Linked DNA regions of Homo sapiens: region 1 is linked to region 2. The links come from fine-mapping of genetic effects on gene expression. A gene starts in region 2. The other region holds a variant in brackets. All regions are shown on one strand. Distances are between the middles of the regions.

Region 1 (9,254 bases), 89 kb before region 2:
GGAGAATCACTTCAACCCGGGAGGCAGAGATTGCAGTGAGCCAAGATCGCACCATTGCACTCCAGCCTGGGTGACAAGAATGAGACTTCGTCTCAAAAAAAAAATAAAAATAATAAAAAGAAGAAAATGGCTGGGTGCAGTGGCTCATGCCTGTAATCCCAGCACTTTGGGAGGCCAAGACAGGTGGATCACCTGAGGTCGGGAGTTCAAGACCAGCCTGACCAACATTGAGAAACCCCATTTCTACTAAAAATACAAAATTAGCTGGGCGTGGCGGCACATGCCTGTAATCCCAGCTACTTGGGAGGCTGAGGCAGGAGAATCGCTTGAACCCGGGAGGCAGAGGTTGTGGTGAGCCAAGATTGCACCATTGTACTCCAGCTTGGGCAACAAGAGCAAAACTCTGTCTCAAAAACAGAAGAAGAAGAAGAAACTGAAGTACAAGGCCAAAGGTACTTGAAGTAGGCTTAACTTCTTCCTGAAGCACCATTACTATTTGATGGTAAATCTATGTTTTTATACTTTAGGTACAAGTGATGAAATTCAAGGCCAGGCATAGTGACTCATGCTTGCAACCCCAGCACTTTGGGAGGCCGAGGCAGGAGGATCACTTGAGGTCAGGAGTTTGAGACCAGCTTGGCCAACATGGTGAAATCCATTCTCTACTAAAAATACAAAAATTAGGCCAGGTGCATTGGCTCACGCCTGTCATCTCAGCCCTTTGGGAGGCTGAGGCGGGCAGATTACTTGAGGTCAGGAGTTTGAGACCAGCCTGGCCAACATAGTGAAACCCCGTCGCTACTAAAAATATAAAAATTAGCTGGGTGTGGTGGCGCACACCTGTAATCCCAGCTACTCAGGAGGCGGAGGCAGCAAAATCACTTGAACCCAGGAAGCGGAGGTTGCAGTGAGCCAAGATCACGCCATTGCACTCCAGCCTGGGTGACAGAGTGAGACTCCATCTCAAAAAAACAAACAACAACAACAACAAAAACAAAAATTAGCCAGGCATGATGGCCCACATCTGTAGTTGCAGCTACTCAGAAGGCTTGAGGCAGGACAATCTCTTGAACCCCAGAGGCAGAGGTTGCAGTGAGCTGAGATCACACCACTGCACTCCAGCCTGGGCAACATGGCAAGACTCTATCTCAAAAAAAAAAAAATCCCGAAGAAGCAAACAAAAACAAGTGACAAGTGATGAAATCCAAGGTCAAAGATTAAGAACATTGACTTGAAGGAGAGGGGACAGTCACGAGAAGGAAATGTATTTTCTTTTCCACCAGCATGAGGACCCAGTAGGTACAAAGTTTACCAAGGGAGAAGCTTGGGTGGGGATAGTGATTGCCAAACGCTCCCCGCAGCTGTGGTTGCTCTTGCCTTGGGGACAGTTCACTCAAGGTCACTGGTTATTAGAGAACATCAATTGTGGATTGCAGAACTCCATAGCCACCAACATAACTCAAGTCCCGGTTGGGCTTTTCACTGAGAAATGGTTGTGTGGCATTTTATCAACACATCACAGGCCCTGTGGAAAAAGGCTTGGCTTCTAATTAATTGGATTAATAGCCAACTTCCAAATCAATTGTTTTTCTTAATGCACTGGCAAAAGTCATTTACGGAGTGAAAACCTGAGAACATCTACTATTCAATCATCTTTCCTGAAGAGATAAGTGGTAAGAGTAACTCTGCCCAACATAGTATGAAGTCTTAGGTTTTTCAAGCAGTAAATGAATACTGAATGAAAGCTAAGCATAAAGATAATACATTAATGGCCGGGCGTGGTGGCTCATGCCTGTAATCCCAGCACTTTGGGAGGCCGAGGTGGGCGGATCACCTGAGGCGAGGAGTTCGAGACCATCCTGTCCAACATGGTGAAACCCCATTTCTACTAAAAATACAAAAATAAAAATAGCCAGGCATGGTGGCGCATGCCTGTAATCCCAGCTACTCAGGAGGCTGAGGCAGGAGAATCGCTTGAACACTGGAGGCAGAAGTTACAGTGAGCCGAGATCACACCGCTGCATTCCAGCTTGGGCAACAAGAGTAAAACTCTGTCTCAAAAAAAATAAAATAATACTACATTAATATAAAATCATGTGGACAACTGGAGTGAAAAAAAATTCAAAGAGAAAAAATGGTAAAACCTTGCTTTTTTTCTTTTTTTTTGGGACGGAGTCTCACTCTGTCGCCAGTCTGGAGTGCAGTGGTGTGATCTCAGCTCACTGCAATCTCTACCTCCTGGGTTCAAGTGATTCTCCTGCCTCAACCTCCCGAGTAGCTGGGACTACAGGCATGTGCCACCACGCCTGGGTAACTTTTGTATTTTTAATAGAGACAGGGTTTCACCATGTTGGCCAGGATGGTCTTGATCTCTTGACCTCGTGATCTGCCCGCCTCGGCCTTCCAAAGTGCTGAGATTTCAGGCGTGAGCCACCGCGCCCAACCGGTTTTTTTGTTTTGTTTTGTTTTTGAGACAGGGTCTTGCTCTGTTCCCCAGGCTGGAGTGCAGTGGCGCAATGTCAGCTCACTGCAACTGCTGCCTCCCAGACTCAAGTGATCCTCCCACCTCAGCCTCCCACGTAGCTGGGACTACAGGCGCCTGCCACCACCCATGGCTTATTTTTTTTGTATGTTTTTGTAGAGACGGGGTTTCACCTTGTTGCCCAAGCTGGTCTCAAACTTCTAGGGTCAGGCAATCCTCCTGCCTCGGCCTCCTAAACTGCTGGGATTACAGGTGTGAGCCACCACATGTGGCCCAGGTGTTTTCTTTAAGTGGGTGATGGTGACGATCAACTCCCTTAGGTATTTAGAGTCCAACAGATGTATTTGAGAATGGAATAGTTTTAGTTTCAAAGATCACTATTTACACAATGGCAAGTAATTATGTCTTTGCAACTGTATACACTAAACATTTTAGGTGTCAGGTTAAATACTAGGTGGAACAGAATTTGTCACAAAATTTTACAGTATGTAGGAACAAAAAAAACACTAATGAAAACAATGACAAATATTGGCCTTTTAGGTTTGAACTCACCGTTAATGGCACCATTTTATTAATTTGCCATTTCATATGATGTTTTAACCCTAAATTGCTGGTAAGTTTTGTAGCTGAATTTTCTTAGCATTTCTGGCTAACTATGCTGTGTTCTTTAGTTTACTAACAATTTTTGTTTCTGATTCCCTAATGTTTAGCCATCCTTACATTCCTCAGATAAGCTCTCCTAAGCTGTTATTATCCTGGTTAAGCAGTATGTGGTATCTTACATTTATCTTAAGACCAGGTGATAGGAGTTTTTCTGGCGAAGAAAACTACTAGGTTTGAGTACCGAAAAAATTACTTTCGCAGAATGAATTGGGAATCTTTGAATTATAATGGCAACAACTCAAGATTTGTATGCATGATATTATTTTATTTTTCGAGATAGGATCTTGCTTGCTCTGTTATCCAGGCTGGCAGTGCATTGGCGTGGTCTCGGCCCACTGCAACCTCCGCCTTCCACACTCAAGTGATCCTCCTCCCTCAGCCTCCAGAGTGACTGAGACTAAGCCACCTTGCCCAGCTAATTTTTGTATTTTTAGTACACACGGGGTTTGCCACGTTACCCAGGCTGGTCTGAGCTCAGGGGATCCACCCACATCAGCCGTCCAAAGTGCTAGGACTATAGATGTGAGCCAGCGCACCTGGCCCACAATATTAAGTGAAATCTCACTGTCTTTTCTCTTCCAGTTTTTAGGTTTTTGTCTCTTCATTCAGTTTTGGGAACTTATTAGTTCCCATTATCTAGACTTAAGAATGTTGTATGGGCCGGGCGCGGTGGCTCACGCCTGTAATCCCAGCACTTTGGGAGGCTGAGGCGGGCGGATCACGAGGTCAGGAGATCGAGACCATCCTGGCTAACACGGTGAAACTCCGTCTCTAGTAAAAATACAAAAAAATTAGCCTGGGGTGGTGGCGGGCGCCTGTAATCCCAGCTAGTCGGGAGGCTGAGGCAGGAGAATGGCGTGAACCCGGGAGGCGGAGCTTGCAGTGAGCTGAGATCGCGCCACTGCACTCCAGCCTGGGCGACAGAGTGAGACTCCGTCTCAAAAAAAAAAAAAAAGAGAATGTTGGTATGAAATAGGAATAATTCTCTTTGATTTTTTTTAGCTTATCTTTCCTGCCTAGGTTATTAAATAGCAAATGTTTGTTTTTTCCCCCTGCTTTGCAGGGGCGTATTGATCTGCCACCTTTTTCAAGAACCAGTTTAGGGCCAGGCACAGTAGCTTACACCTATAACCCCCGCATTTTGGGAGGCCGAGGCGGGCGGATCACAAGGTCAGGAGATCGAGACCATCCTGGCTAACAGGGTGAAACCCCGTCTCTACTAAAAATACAAAAAATTAGCTGGGCGTGGTGGCAGGCACCTGTAGTCCCAGCTACTCGGGAGGCTGAGGCAGGAGAATGGCGTGAACCCGGGAGGCGGAGCTTGCAGTGAGCCGAGATCCTACCACTGCACTCCAGCCTGGGCGACAGAGTGAGACTCTGTCTCAAAAAAAAAAAAAAAAAAAAAAGAGATCAGCCTGGGCAACTTAGTGAGACCCCTGTCTCTACTAAAAGTCTAAAAATTTTTTAAAAGCCAAGCACAATAGCTCACGTCTGTAATGCTAACACTTTGGGAGGCCAAGGAGGGTAGATCACTTGAGGTCAAGAGTTCAAAACCAGGCTGGCCAACATGGTGAAATCCCGTCTCCAATAAAAATACAAAAATTAGCAGAGCATGGTGGCACATGCCTGTAATCCCAGCTACTCAGGAGGCAGTCAGCTGAGATTATGCCACTGCACTTCAGCCTGAGCAACAGAGACCCTGTCT[C/CA]AAAAAAAAAAAAAAAAAGAAAAAGAAAATAAAAAGAAAGAAAAAAAGAGAAATCCAACAGCCTAACAGAAAAATAGTCAAGGGAGATCAACAAGAGACTAGATCTCTGAAGAAATATAAATCATAACTTAATATAAAAAAAATATACAGCCCGACTAACAATATTCATATTTAAGTCAGTCTTTTAAGTGACTTTCAAACACACTTAACAAAAAGCAAGCTAAAAGTTTTATAAAAGAAATGATAGCTTCTCTCACCTGGTACAGCAGGCAACTTTTTAGTCAAAATAAGGTCAGGAATAGTTTCCCCAAAACAGCCAGACACCCTCTGTCAAGACAAACCGTCCTTAGATAAAAAGATGAGCAACAAGCTGCTGTGTTTCTTTTATACGAATTAGGCTCTTGATTGGATAATTGAAATAACACGGATTCTCACAAGCAGAAATTTTCACACATCAGGTTAGATTGTTTTCTTAATTCATCCAATAATGTAATACCTCAGTTCTATAAACGTTGAAGAAATTCACTTCTCACAAGGAGAGACTGGGGGCAAATGCATATAGCAGTTCACTTGAATGTCCCCACATAAAAAAAAATAATAATAACAACAACAAGAAATAAAAGATCTGTTTTACCCTGGTTGGCTTTCAGTTGACCATTTCATTTGGTTCACCTGCTGAGAATTCGGTAACGATGTTACTGTGAGGCAGGACGACAGGACGACTTCTAGCCACTGTATCCTTCTTAGCACTGTTTCCCAGCACTAACTGAGCAGAAGAATCACCTGGCCTCTTGGTCAAAACACAGATTCCTAAGTCCCGCATGTATACAGTAATTCCAGTTAAGCAGGTCTGCAGCAGGACCAGGAGTGTGCATTTTTCAGAAATACCACCTGCCCCCACCAGAAATCTTTAAATATTTTTATCATGCTCTCAATAATAGACATTTCAGAGGGATGAGTTGAAGGAGGGCTGGCATTTGTTCACTACAAAATCATATCATTGAAGGAATCTTGGAAAATATAGACCAGAAGGAAACAAAGGGAGAAAAATAAGCACAGGAGCCGGGCGCGGTGGCTCACGCCTGTAATCCCAGCACTTCGGGAGGCCGAGGCGGGTGGATCACAAGGTCAGGAGATCGAGACCATCCTGGCTAACACGGTGAAACCCCAGCTCTACTAAAAATACAAAAAATTATCCGGTCATGGTGGTGGGCGCCTGTAGTCCCAGCTACTCGGGAGGCTGAGGCAGGCGAATGGCGTGAACCCAGGAGGCGGAGCTTGCAGAGAGCTGAGAGCTGAGATCGCGCCACTGCACTCCAGCCTGGGCGACCAAGCGAGACTCTGTTTCAAAAAAAAAAAAAAAAAGAAAGAAAGAAAAGAAAAATAAGCACAGGAAAAAATACTGTAAAAAAATCAAGATATTAAATATTAACTGTGCTTATGCTTGGAAGTGGAACTATATGTATTATTATTATTTACAGGTTTTATTTACAGACTAAAGGGTGCAGAAGGCATGAAAATATTTTGTGATACTAATCCCATTTTGGAGAGAAAAAATAAGCACTGGCCAGGCACAGTAGCTCATGCCTATAATCCCAGCACTTTGGCAGGCTGAGGTGGGAGGATCACTAGAGGCCAGGAGTTCAAACTGGACAACATAATGAGATACTTTTTTTTTTTTTTTTTTTTTACATGGAATCTCCCTCTATCGCCCAGGCTGGAGTGCAGTGGCACCTTCTCGGCTCACTGCAACCTCCGCCTCCTGGGTTCAAGCGATTCTCGTCTCAGGCTCCCAAAATAGCTGGGGCTACAAGTGTGCACCACCACGCCCAGCTAATTTTTTTTTTTTTTTTTTTGAGACAGAGTTTCGCTCTTGTTGCCCGAGATGGAGTGCAATGGCGTGATCTTGGCTCACCGCAACCTCCGCCTCCCAGGTTCAAGCAATTCTCCTGCCTCAGCCTCCCAAGTAGCTGAGATTAGAGGCATGCATCACCACATCCGGCTTATTTTGTATTTTTAGTAGAGACAGGGTTTCTCCGTGTTGGTCAGGCTGGTCGCGAACTCCTGACGTCAGTTGATTTGCCTGCCTTGGCCTCCCAAAGTGCTGGGATTACAGGCGTGAGCCACCACGCCCGGCTAATCAGGCTGAGTCTCGAACTCCTGACCTCAGGTGATCTCCCCACTTCTGCCTCCCTAAGTACTGGCATTACAGGCGTCAGCCACCACGTCCAGCCACTTTCTTTCATTTCTGTTTCTGAGGTCCATTGCTCCATTCAGTAGAAAAGGGGTGGCTTGGAGAGGATTTGCCAACCTTCCCATGATTTCCATCACCACATCCCCCAAAATGCACAACCTAAGTTTAAAAGCATAGCAACTGGTCAGGTGTGGTGGTTTACGCCTGTAATCCCAGCACTGTGGGAGGCTGAGGCAGGCGGATCGCCTGAGGTCAGGAGTTCTAGACAAGCCTGGCCAACATGGTGAAACCCCGTCTCTACTAAAAATATAAAAATTAGCCGGGCGTGGTAGTGTGCACCTATAATCCCAGCTACTCAGGAGGCTGAGGCATGAGAATTGCTTGAACCCAGGAGGCGGAGGTTGCAGTGAGCTGAGATCTCACCATTGTACTCCAGCATGGTTGACAAGAGCAAGACTCCGTCTCAAAAAAAAAAAAATAGAAAAAGAAAAAAGAAAATGACCCAGCTGAGTTATATAAGCAGGTGATACTAATCTTTTATTTATTTTTCTTTCCTTTTTTTTTTTCAGATGGAGTCTGGCTCTGTCACCCAGGCTGGAGTGCAGTGGCACGATCTCGGCTCACTGCAACCTCCGCCTCCTGTGTTCAAGCAATTCTTCTGCCTCAGCCTCCTGAGTAGCTGGGACAACAGGCGCGTGCCACCACACCTGGCTAATTTTTGTGTTTTTATGGGGTTTCACCATATTGGCCACGATGGTCTCGAACTCCTGACCTCGTGATCCACCTGCCTTGGCCTCCCAAAGTGCTGGGATTACAGGTGTGAGCCACCGCGCCCAGCCGATACTAATCATTTTAAGTGCTGGACTGCAGTGTTATAATCTGGGGTTAAGTAGAGCCACCTAAATAATTTGCCATTTTTTCTCTCCAGGACCACTATACTGAAATGATCCCTATAACCAAAATTTTATTCATGGTCTTCGATCAGTTGCACTAATTTCCTTAGGATCCAAGGATTGATGAAGGTTTCTCGTGGCTCATAAAGTCCAAATTGGGAATCTTGGTATTTGAATATTAATACTATCTGTAGGCAAGAAAAATCGTAACAATTTCAGAAAAAAAAATGTAGGGAGTGCAGAACTTTCAAATATTTAACTAAATGGCAAGAATTCTTTGCTCTTAAACACCCATATATGGAAAATAGAGCAAGGGTTTTTTGGCCAGGTGTTACGAATAGGATGACACTTAGCAACTTCTTGGTACCCTCATTTTCGTATTTTCAAGGAGACTGAAATACAATGTGATCCTTTCTTTTTTTTTTCTTTTCTTTTTTTTTTTTTTTTTTTGAGACGGAGTCTCACTCTGTCGCCCAGCCCAGGCTGGAGTGCAGTGGCGCGATCTCGGCTCACTGCAACCTCTGCCTTCTGGGTTCAAGCGATTCTCCTGCGTCAGCCTCTCAAGTAGCTGGGATTACAGGCACACACCACTATGCCTGGCAAATTTTTGTATTTTTAGTAGAGATGGGGTTTCACCATATTAGTCAGGCTGATCTCGAACTCCTGACCTCAAGTGATCTGCCCACCTTGGCCTCTCAAAGTGCTGGGAGTACAGGGGTGACCCACTGTGACTGATCACCCGGCCAGTATTTTAGTTATTTGTAGAGACAAGGGCCGGCTATGTTGCCTAGGCTGTTCCCAAACTTTTGTGCTCAAGTGATCTTCCTGCCTCGAGTTCCCGAAGTGTGGGGATTACAGGCATAAGCCACCATGCCCAGCAGGAGCTCTTAAGGTCTGCTTGAATGGTCCTTGTTTTGCTGGGTACAGTTAGTTACATTTTATCATTTTTTTTTTTTTTGAGATGGAGTCTTGCTGTGTTGTCCAGGCTGCCGTTCAGTGGTGCGATCTTGGCTCACTGCAACCTCCGCCTCCCAGACACAAGCGATTCTCCTGCCTCAGCCTCCTGAGTAGCTGGGACTACAGGCGTGCACAACCAGGCCTGGCTAATTCTTGTGTTTTCAGTAGACATGGGGTTTCGCCATGTTGGCCAGGCTGGTCTCGAACTCCTCATCTCCCCACCTCTGCCTCCCTAAATATTGGGATTACAGGCGTCAGCCACCACTTCCAGCCACGTTCTTTCATTTCTGTTTCTGAGGCCCATTGCTCCATTCAGTAGAAAAGGGGCGGCTTGTAGGAGATTTGCCAGCCTTCCCATTA
Region 2 (9,254 bases):
CCTCAGCCTCCCAGAGTGTTGGGTTTATAAGTGTGAGCCAATGCGCCCAGCTTGTACAGTTGAAAAGGGTGAATTTTACAGTGTGTAAGTTAAATGTCAATCATTTAAAAAAAAAAAAAAAAAAGGCCAGGCGCGGTCACACCTGTAATCCCGGCACTTTGGGAGGCCAAGGCGGGCAGATCACCTGAGGTCAAGAGTTCAAGACCAGCCTAGCCAACATGGTGAAACCCCATCCCTGCAAAAACACACACACACAAAATAGCTGGGCATGATGGCAGGTGCCTGTAATCCCAGCTACTCGGGAGGCTGAGGCAGGAGAATTGCTTGAACCTGGGAGGAGGAGGTTGTAGTCAGCCGAGATCGTGCCATTGCACTCCAGCCTGGGCAACAGAGCAAGACTCCGTCTCAAAAAAAAAAAAAAACAAAAAAAAAACCTCCTCTTCCAATAAATAAGGCATTCAGCAAATACGGAACACTACAAAACAGAATGTTTCTCTTTAAAATTCAAGTTCCACAATACAATCTGCTAAGTTTTGGAGACAGTGCCTCCTCCAAGTAAGTACTGAGGGCTGCTGGTTTTATTCCATGCTTGTTTCTTAATGGCAGTGAGTTCTGAGAAGCATTAAAGGTGGGATGATGCAAAGAACACCACATCATTACTTTAGAAGCTCTGGCTGTTCTAAAAAGTTCAAGTAACCCTAAAATTACTAAACCAGTTTCTTATCTAACAATAAAAAAAACTAGGTGCAAATTGCAACTTAAATACATCCTATCAGATAAAATGCTTGTTCTAATATACATTAAGCCTTGTCTTCTATATTTTTATTCACTTGGGGACCTCACTTTTTAAGGAGAATCTCTTGGCCAATTTACTTGGCTCTAGAGAACTGTGCTTAAATGAATTACACTTAATTACACTTAAATGGGTTCCACTTAATTATTTCTTAAGGAACCTATATTCTTTAGTTTTCAAAGAGATCCAAGGTCAATACTGAATCCCAAGGTCTGACTCTCCAGGCTCCTTCAACAGCTTTCCCGGCATGCAGTTTAAAAACACACCCAGCACAAATTTCGGCTATGGCTTAACTAAAGAACAGAACATGCTAGCCCTATTGTCCACTTCCTCGCTATCAAAAAAACCTTGCAAACTTTTTGGTTCCCCCTTTGTAAGTTCCAATCCAGGTGTTATTTCCTATTTATCCCCCTGCTTTTTATAAGCACTGATTGTTCTCCGATGCTGGCTTTTTATGGACTTAATAGTCTGGAACATGCAATCCAACAGTCTCAATATAACCCTGGACCTCAACTTAGAAAATCAGTTCTTTTCCAAATAGACATCCTACATAGGATAATTTTTTAAAAACATGAACTGGCATTTTGGTACAAGCAATTGGTAAAGTCGGTAACACCAAAATAGTTTTTTGATTAAAAACAAGAAAGTTGACCATGCTGTACGGATTCTCTTACTGACAGCTACTTCCCTACAGGTTTTCGCATCTCCAATTTCTAGCACTGTCAAAGAGAAAAAGATTAGGTGTAACTACAAATTAGCAACTATCAGGAAGAGAGAAAGCCCGCATAAGAGGTAATACCTAGTCACCAACAGTGACCATTCTAGACCAAGGTTGGTTATCCCCGGATGACTCGCTGGACAGGCTGTAAATGGAGTCCTGAGTCTAGTCAGAGTGGTGCTGGTGGCTCCACAGAAAGGAGGAAGAGCCAAGAAAGAAAATGGCTGGATAAACGGAATCTGCAAAGTAAGGTAGGGAATGGGCACTTTTAGGAGCTGAGAAGTGAACTAGGTTAGGCAGTCAAAATGGCTTGATGTAAGTCAAGAATTACAAGCTAAGCTTCCTTATTCAAGAGGAAAACATTGTCTAGAGCCGTACCACCCTGAAAGTGCTCGATCTCCTCAAAAGAAAACATCAACCACCCACACAAATAAATGCCACTGTCAACAAAACCACCAAATCAACCGTGCTGACGTACATACGTCATCAGAGTGTTTCTCCAGACACTATCCCTTTACCACGAAAGAGCAAACGGTGACAAAAGTTTCTGTAGAAACCAAACTCCTGGAGCACTTTTATAATGTCCACTTATCTAAGAACCACCACAATACAGAACTTTAAAGAGAGAAATCAACAATATGTTCTCACTTAAAATGCGCTGGATGTCATGACCCACCCCACTAACGTCCTGGCTAAATGATGAAAGGACGTTCAGCCTTTTCCTTCCTTTTTCATTTTCTCTTTAAGGAAACACTGATAGTTCCTAAAATAAGCACCATTAGGAAGAGAATACTTAAGTTCACTCATTTGACATTCCCACAAAATCAGTACCTGAAAGCAAGCTACCTACCACAAAATAAGCACCATTATGAGAATACATAAGTTCACTCACCGGATATTCCTACAACGTCAGCACCTGCAAGCATGCTACCTACGACTTAAGCAACCCCTAAGTACGGGAAGATGTTTAAAAACCAAAGTTAACTCGAAATTTTATGGATTAGAAAATGTATGTCTACTAGCTACGGTCAGAAAGACACGTGAGAACTATTAAATTATAACAAATGCTCAAGTGTCTGAAGAAATAGACTGAACTACTGATGCACGAACACAGTGAGTTATTCCAAGCAATCTGAATAAGGTCAACGATTTTACAGCAATGAAAATTCTCTAAACGTGTCGCTGACAAAGGATAAAAGTGTAAGCTTCACTTTAAAAAGACACAAATCAATATAGTCTCCTATCACACATTAAGTGAGGAATCCTAACTTTGTGGCACTTTGTAAACTTTAGAAGCGTACACAATGCTAAGGGTAAAACAGATCTTGGTATTGATAGCCAAGTTTCTGCCCGATCACAAGGCTGCAATGCATCTTGGGATTCCTTCAGGACGGTTGGGGGCCACGGACAGTTTAAACCGTAATTACAGTTTCAATAGTAGAAAACGCAGCAGAAGACGCTCTCTCGGCTGGGCCTAAGGTGAAAGGAAAACTCGGCCATTCGTCCTCCCCAACTCCTGGGATCTCTAAACGCCCACCCAAATGACTCCTGGCTCCATCTGTCCTCATTCTGCGCCTCGTGGCAGGGATCCGCCGCGGCCCCCACTCCGTTCCATACGGTTCCCATCTCAAGTGGGTAACTGCGGACTCCAGAGCAGGGCAGGGGCGCGGAGGGGCGGCACTCGGGTCCGGGTCTTTGGGCGCGCTGCCCGCTGTCCGCTCCCCGCCCGGCCACCGCCGCGGGCCGCCCCGCGAAGGCCGGCTCCCGGGCTCGGGGCGCCCCACCCAGGCAGACGGCGCCACTGTCAGCGCCCCACGTGCCGACCGGGCCCCAGGGCCGCGCGCCCCCGGACCGCACCCCTACGCCATGTGGGCTCCGGCGCCCGGCCGGACTTCCTCCCGCGTCCCGGGCCTTTACCCGCACGGCCTCCCGCGCCGCTGCCGGCTCCGTGGTTATTGGCGGCGCCGCCAACTGGGGGTGGCGGCGCTGCCGGGCCCCGCAGGAAGGACGGCACGAACTCGGCGGCGTGGACGTTGGGCACGAAGGGCTTGGCGTTGACGTTGAGTTGCCGGCTGAAGGCCGCGCTGAGGTTCTCCCGCTGGGCCTCGGCCGCCGCCGCCAGGGAGCCGCCGCCGCCGCAAGGGCCCGGCCCGGGGGCTTCCATGTCCGCCTGGTCCCAGCAGTCAGGCGCCGAGTCGCTGCTGCTGCTGCCGCTGCTGCTCCCGCCGCCGCCGCCGCCGCCGCCGCCGCCGCCACTGCCCGGATCCATGATCGGGGGGGCCGTGTGTGTGGTGGACAGAGAGCGGGAAATGGAGGCAGGGGCGCCCGGCCGGAGAGGAGTGGGCAACGCTGACTGAGGGAAGGCGGCGGGGCAGAAGGGCCGGGAGCTAGCGACAAAGATCCCCGGCGTCGCCGCGGCAGCAGCTCCAGTCCCGACTCCACACTCGCGACGACGACAGAGGCGGCGGCGGCGGCAGCTCAACCCTCCTCCTCGTGTGTGTGAGCGGATCTCCTCCCACCCAACCACCTCCGACGGCCTCACAGCCAACCCCACCCCCGGCGCGGATTGACCCCTCGCCGCCACCCGTACCTTCGCCTCGGTAGTTCTCTGTTCTGGCCGCCCCCGTTTCCGGCTATTTAGCGCGGCGGGAGGTGGAACTACAAGTTCCGGCAGCGCCCGCGCTACCCCGCTGCGGTTTTCCCGGGGGCCGACGGGAGTCGAAGTTCAGGGACAGGGCGCAACCGGAAGCGGCTCCGGCTCCCGGCAGGCAACGCGAGGAGGCGGAGGTCTGGTGGCCGCTCGGCGGCCCCACCTGTCACCTGGTGGGGGGGCAGCGGCAGGCCCTGGTTGGTGCAGCTCTGTGCTGGGCCGAAGACCGAGAGTATTTTAGCCCATAGGAGGGGTCCACTCTGGCCTGCTGGACACAGGCTGGGGGAAAACGGACAGCATCTATAACATGGGGAAGAAAAATACACTCAGCTCCCGAAAATTCTTGTACTCTCTTTTCACCACCTTTCCTGCGTTCTCTGCCTCACAGTCTCCGTACCTTATTCTCTCTCCACCTTCTTTCTCCTCACCCCCAGCCAGATTTTGCCCTTCATTTCAAAGCCGGTGCAGATTGCAAAGCTGATTTCATTTTATGTAATCATTTCGTGGAAGAAACAATAAAACCGTGAGATATTCCGGCTTAAAACTGCAGTGTGGCTCATAAAGCGCTGGGGCCCAGGCTCTGCCCAGGCAGAAGGGATTGTTAACTGGAAAATTTCAATGACTCACCGTTTGTTTGACTAGTCATATAAAGCCTTCACCCAAATTTTTCCATCCTTTCCTCCTCCCCGCCAAAGGGTTTGCAAATTAAACAGAGGATTGCCGTATTCCATGGTGTATCCGGCTTACCTAACAGGGTTATTTTGGTGAGTCTAGCTTCCTTATGCACCATTACGTGAAGTGGTTTCCTTTTGAATGGTCTGATTTGCTCAAGAATTCCCATAGTACTTTTCATCGACTGCATCTTACACTTACAGATTAGGTAAACCTGGGAAAAGAACAAAAGCAAACGAGAAATACTTAAGAGTTCGCATTTAGGCCCTTCATGAAGTAGGAAAAAATGTTGCTCTGAGTACCTGTTAAGCTTTCCTGTAATTCACCCATGTGGAGCCCAAGACAGAGAAAAACATATTGTTAGTATTTTTCTGAAAGGAGTCTAGACAGGGTGCAACTAATCTGCCTAGAAATTACAGACTAAAGAAGCACATACATAGAATAGATGTTTCTGAACAACCTTAGGTTGTTAAAAAAAAAAAAAACCTAACAAAATCCAGATCTAGATCTGTATTTTAATTTTCTTTTTTCTTTTTTTTGAGACGGAGTCTTGCTCTGTAGCCCAGGCTGGAGTGCAGTGGCGCGATGTCGGCTCGCTGCAAGCCCGCCTCCCGGGTTCACAACATTCTCCTGCCTCAGTCTCCGGAGTAGCTGGGACTAGAGGCGCCCGCCATCACGCCCGGCTAATTTTTTTTGTATTGTTATTAGAGACGAGGTTTACACCGTGTTAGACAGGATGGTCTGGATCTCCTGACCTCGTGATCCGCTCGTCTCGGCCTCCCAAAGTGCTGGGATTACAGGCGTGAGCCACCGCGCCCGGCCGATCTGTATTTTAATTTTAAACATCTGTATTGTAAAGATAAAAGAGAACTCAGCCTAATGAGATAGGTCAAAAACGAAGCTGTCAAGTATTTTTCAAAAGAGTCCTAGGCTACAGTAATTTGAATTTAATATTAAACTACCAAGCTTTAGGGATTAAAAAAACACATACCGGCCAGGCGCAGTGGCTCACACCTGTAATCTCAGCAATTTGGGAGGCCGAGGCAGATGGATCACGTGAGGTCAGGAGTTCGAGACCAGCCTGGCCAACGTGGTGGAACCCCCGTCTCTACTAAAAATACAAGTTAGGCCGGGCGCGGTGGCTCACGCCTGTAATCCCAGCACTTTGGGAGGCCAAGGTGGGCGGATCACGAGATCAGGAGATTGAGACCATCCTGGCTAACACGGTGAAACCCTGTCTCTACTGAAAATACAAAAAATTAGCCGGGCGTGGTGTGCGGGCGTCTGTATTGCCAGCTACTCAGGAGGCTGAGGCAGGAGAATGGCGTGAAACCAGGAGGCGGAGCCTGCAGTGAGCCGAGATCGCGCCACTGCACTCCAGCTTGAGCGACAAAGCGAGACTCTGTCTCAAAAAACAAACAAAAAAAGCGATCCACCTGCCTCAGCTTCCCAAAGTGCTGGGCTTATCGGTGTGAGCCACCACACCCGGCAGAGTTTGCCTCTGCTTAATAGGAAGTTTTGGTTATAGCCTATTATTATACCTGAAGACCTCACTGAATCATACTTAACAATGTCCATTTTAAAGTTGGTATTAAGTGACTGTCAGATTTACAGAGAACTTAACAACTGTTATGAAAATTAGAACTTCATTTATGCGAGACCTGTATTGCTATTGAATAAAAGATTTTCATCTTATATTCACAAGAAAAAATACAATGTGTTCTAAATGAAATGCCTTCTCTTTCCAGATTTTCACTCCCCACCCACCCACCCCTAAGAAAATGTCAACACAATCAGCTGACTCAAATAATGAACTACACATCCTTCTCTAAGCATTTTGTCTTTGAATACTACTCTCCTCCATGTAGCACTCCTACAGCACTGAATGATCACTTTCTCATAGGTTAGTTCTTCACATCTAATTGAATTAGCAGAGTTTCCTTCTGCCTGGTACTTTTTCTAGGGACAAAGGCAGAAACTGCTCAGACTGCTGCTTAGAAAAGCAGTTGATGTCATTAATTTCCTTGTCTCTGAATAGGATAATTATGGATATTCAGGAAAAAATCCACTCCATTGGTTTTCCAAAGCTTTGACCTGCCAAACAGAGCTCCAGCGGAAAAGGGAAAAGTCTTTCTTGTTAGTTGTGCTAAGTTGTGTGTAAGTTGTGCGACTTGAGGGCAGGGTCTTACCTTAATCTTCTTTACATTTCCACTGCCTAGTGTAATGCCCGGTGTATAAAAGGTGCTTAATCAATTTAGCTGGGATGATACTGTCCTTTGATACTCATTTAAGACTGCTGACACATAGGGCTAATAATTTTATTTATTTATTTATTTTTTAAATAACTTGAGACTCTTGAGACAGAGTCTCGCTCTGTCGCCCAGGCTAGAGTGCAGTGGTATGATCTCAGCTCACTGCAACTTCCACCTCCCAGGTTCAAGCGATTCTCCCACCTCAGCCTCCTGAGTAGCTGGGATTACAGGTGTGCACCACCACGCCCAGCTAATTTTTGTATTTTTAACAGAGACGGGGTTTCACCATGTTGGCCAGGATGGTCTCAATTTCTTGACCTTGTGATCTGCCCTCCTTGGCCTCCCAAACTGTTGGGATTACAGGCGTGAGCCACCACGCCTGGCCTGTATTTTTTTTTAGTAGAGACAGGGTTTCACCTTGTTGGCCAGGCTGGTTTCAAACTCCTGATCTCAAGTGATCTGCCTGCCTTGGGCTCCTAAAGTGCTAGGATTACAGATGTGAGCCACCGCACTTAGCTATTTTAATTTAATTTAATTTTATTTTTTGAGATGGAGTCTTGCTCTGTTGCCCAGGCTGGAGTGCAGTGGAGCAATCTTCACGCACTGCAACCTCTACCTCCCAAGTTCAAGCAATTCTCCTGCCTCAGCCTCCTGAGTAGCTGGGATTATAGGTGCCCGCCACCCCCCCTCCCCAACCCCCTGGTAATTTTTCTATTTTTAGTAGAGACAGGGTTTCACCATATTGCCCAGGCTGATCTGGAACTACTGACCTCAAGTGATCCTCCTGCCTCAGCCTCCCAACGTGCTAGGATTACAGGCATGAGCCACCACACCCCACCCCAGGACTAATAATTTAGAAAACTTAGGAAAAATCAGAGTTTTTCCTACTCTCACACACAAGTCACCGCTCAACACAGAGTACAGTCCTCTCTGGGTAGAGGAAGGGGATTAGTTCCAGGAGCCCTTCAGATACAAAAATCCAACCATACTAAAATCCCACAATCTATACTGTGTGTATGAAAGGTCAGCCCTCCCTACACTTGAGTTCCTGCATCCTGAGAATCCCGTCTTTTTGATCCTCATTTGATTGAAAAAAAAAATCCATGTGTAAGTGGGACCCTCGCAGTTCAGGCTCACATTGTTTAAGGGCCAGTTGTACTCCACCAGTAAGTGAGGGAGTTTCTACCCACCACCAACCAATTCTTCAACAGACACCAACAGGATAAGCAATCATTTCACTCAATTCTGACATTAACCAGAGTTAGGACAGATCCCACAAGTTAAGGGATCAGTCCCACAAGACTGCCCCCACTTCCAATGCCAATAACAGGTTCCACATTGTGACCTGTGCTTCTGACCAACTGGCTATGAATTGGGGGTTCCCATGACCCCCTCCATGGGTTCAGGGAATTTGCCAGAGTGGCTCACAGAACTCAAGGAAACAGGGCAAACACGGTGGCTCATGCCTGTAATCCCAGCACTTTGGGAGGCCGAGGCAGGCGAATCACCTGAGGTCAGGAGTTTGAGACCAGCCTGGCCAACATGGTGAAACCCTGTCTCTACCAAAAAAATACAAAAATTAGCCGGTTGTGGTGGTGGGTGCCTGTATTCCCAGCTACTCAGGAAGCTGAAGGCAGGAGAATCGCTCGAACATGGGAGGCAGAGGTTGTAGTGAGCCAAGTGCTCCACCACACTCTAGCCTGGGCAACAGAGCAAGACTCCGTCTCAAAAAAAAGAACTCAAGGAAACACTTTACTTACAGTTACCCATAAAGGACATTACAAAGGATACAGAGGAACAGCCACGTGGAAGAGATGCACAGGGCTGGGAAGGGGCATACAGTTCCTATTCTGTCTCCAGGTGTGCCATCCTCAAGGGTCCTCCACGTGTTCAGCAACCCAGAAGCTCTCTGAACCCTGTCCTTCTGGGTTTCTATGGAGGCTTCCCTACATAGCCATGACTGATTGTATCATTGCCCGTTGCTGATTAACTCAACCTTCAGCCCCTCTGCCCACCGAGAGGTTGGATGTGGGGCTAAAAGTTCCAAGCTTCTAATCATGACTTGGCCTTTCTGGTGACCAGTCGTCTTCTAGGAGCCCATCAAGAGTTGCATCATTAGGCAGGGTGCGGTGGCTGATGCCCAGCACTTTGGGAGGCCGAGGCAGGCAG

Direction of the effects. Alleles are on the strand shown, and positions count from the first base shown. SD is a standard deviation of normalised expression in the study named.
For the expression in monocytes after Pam3CSK4 of the gene that starts at base 4,016 in region 2, C is the low allele of the variant in region 1 and CA is the other (moderate effect, 0.68 SD a copy in Quach 2016).

What was found. PIP is the estimated chance that this variant, and not a neighbour inherited with it, causes the effect. A credible set is the group of variants that fine-mapping cannot tell apart.
Region 1: its variant is the best candidate, but not a certain one, in a credible set for the expression of GSPT1 in monocytes after Pam3CSK4 (Quach 2016, PIP 0.63).

What each region holds. Positions count from the first base shown.
Region 1 is chr16:11,823,215-11,832,468 of GRCh38, forward strand. BCAR4 (breast cancer anti-estrogen resistance 4) reads right to left here and starts at 5,618. Exons shown (of 3, transcript NR_131222.1): 1 at 5,485-5,618. The variant C/CA (reference allele first, on the strand shown) is at 4,851.
Region 2 is chr16:11,911,941-11,921,194 of GRCh38, forward strand. GSPT1 (G1 to S phase transition 1) reads right to left here and starts at 4,016. Exons shown (of 15, transcript NM_002094.4): 1 at 3,429-4,016. The coding sequence starts at 3,780. RefSeq lists silencers at 3,146-3,195, 3,236-3,475, 3,566-3,635, 4,346-4,405 and enhancers at 3,460-4,397, 4,006-4,155, 5,456-5,956.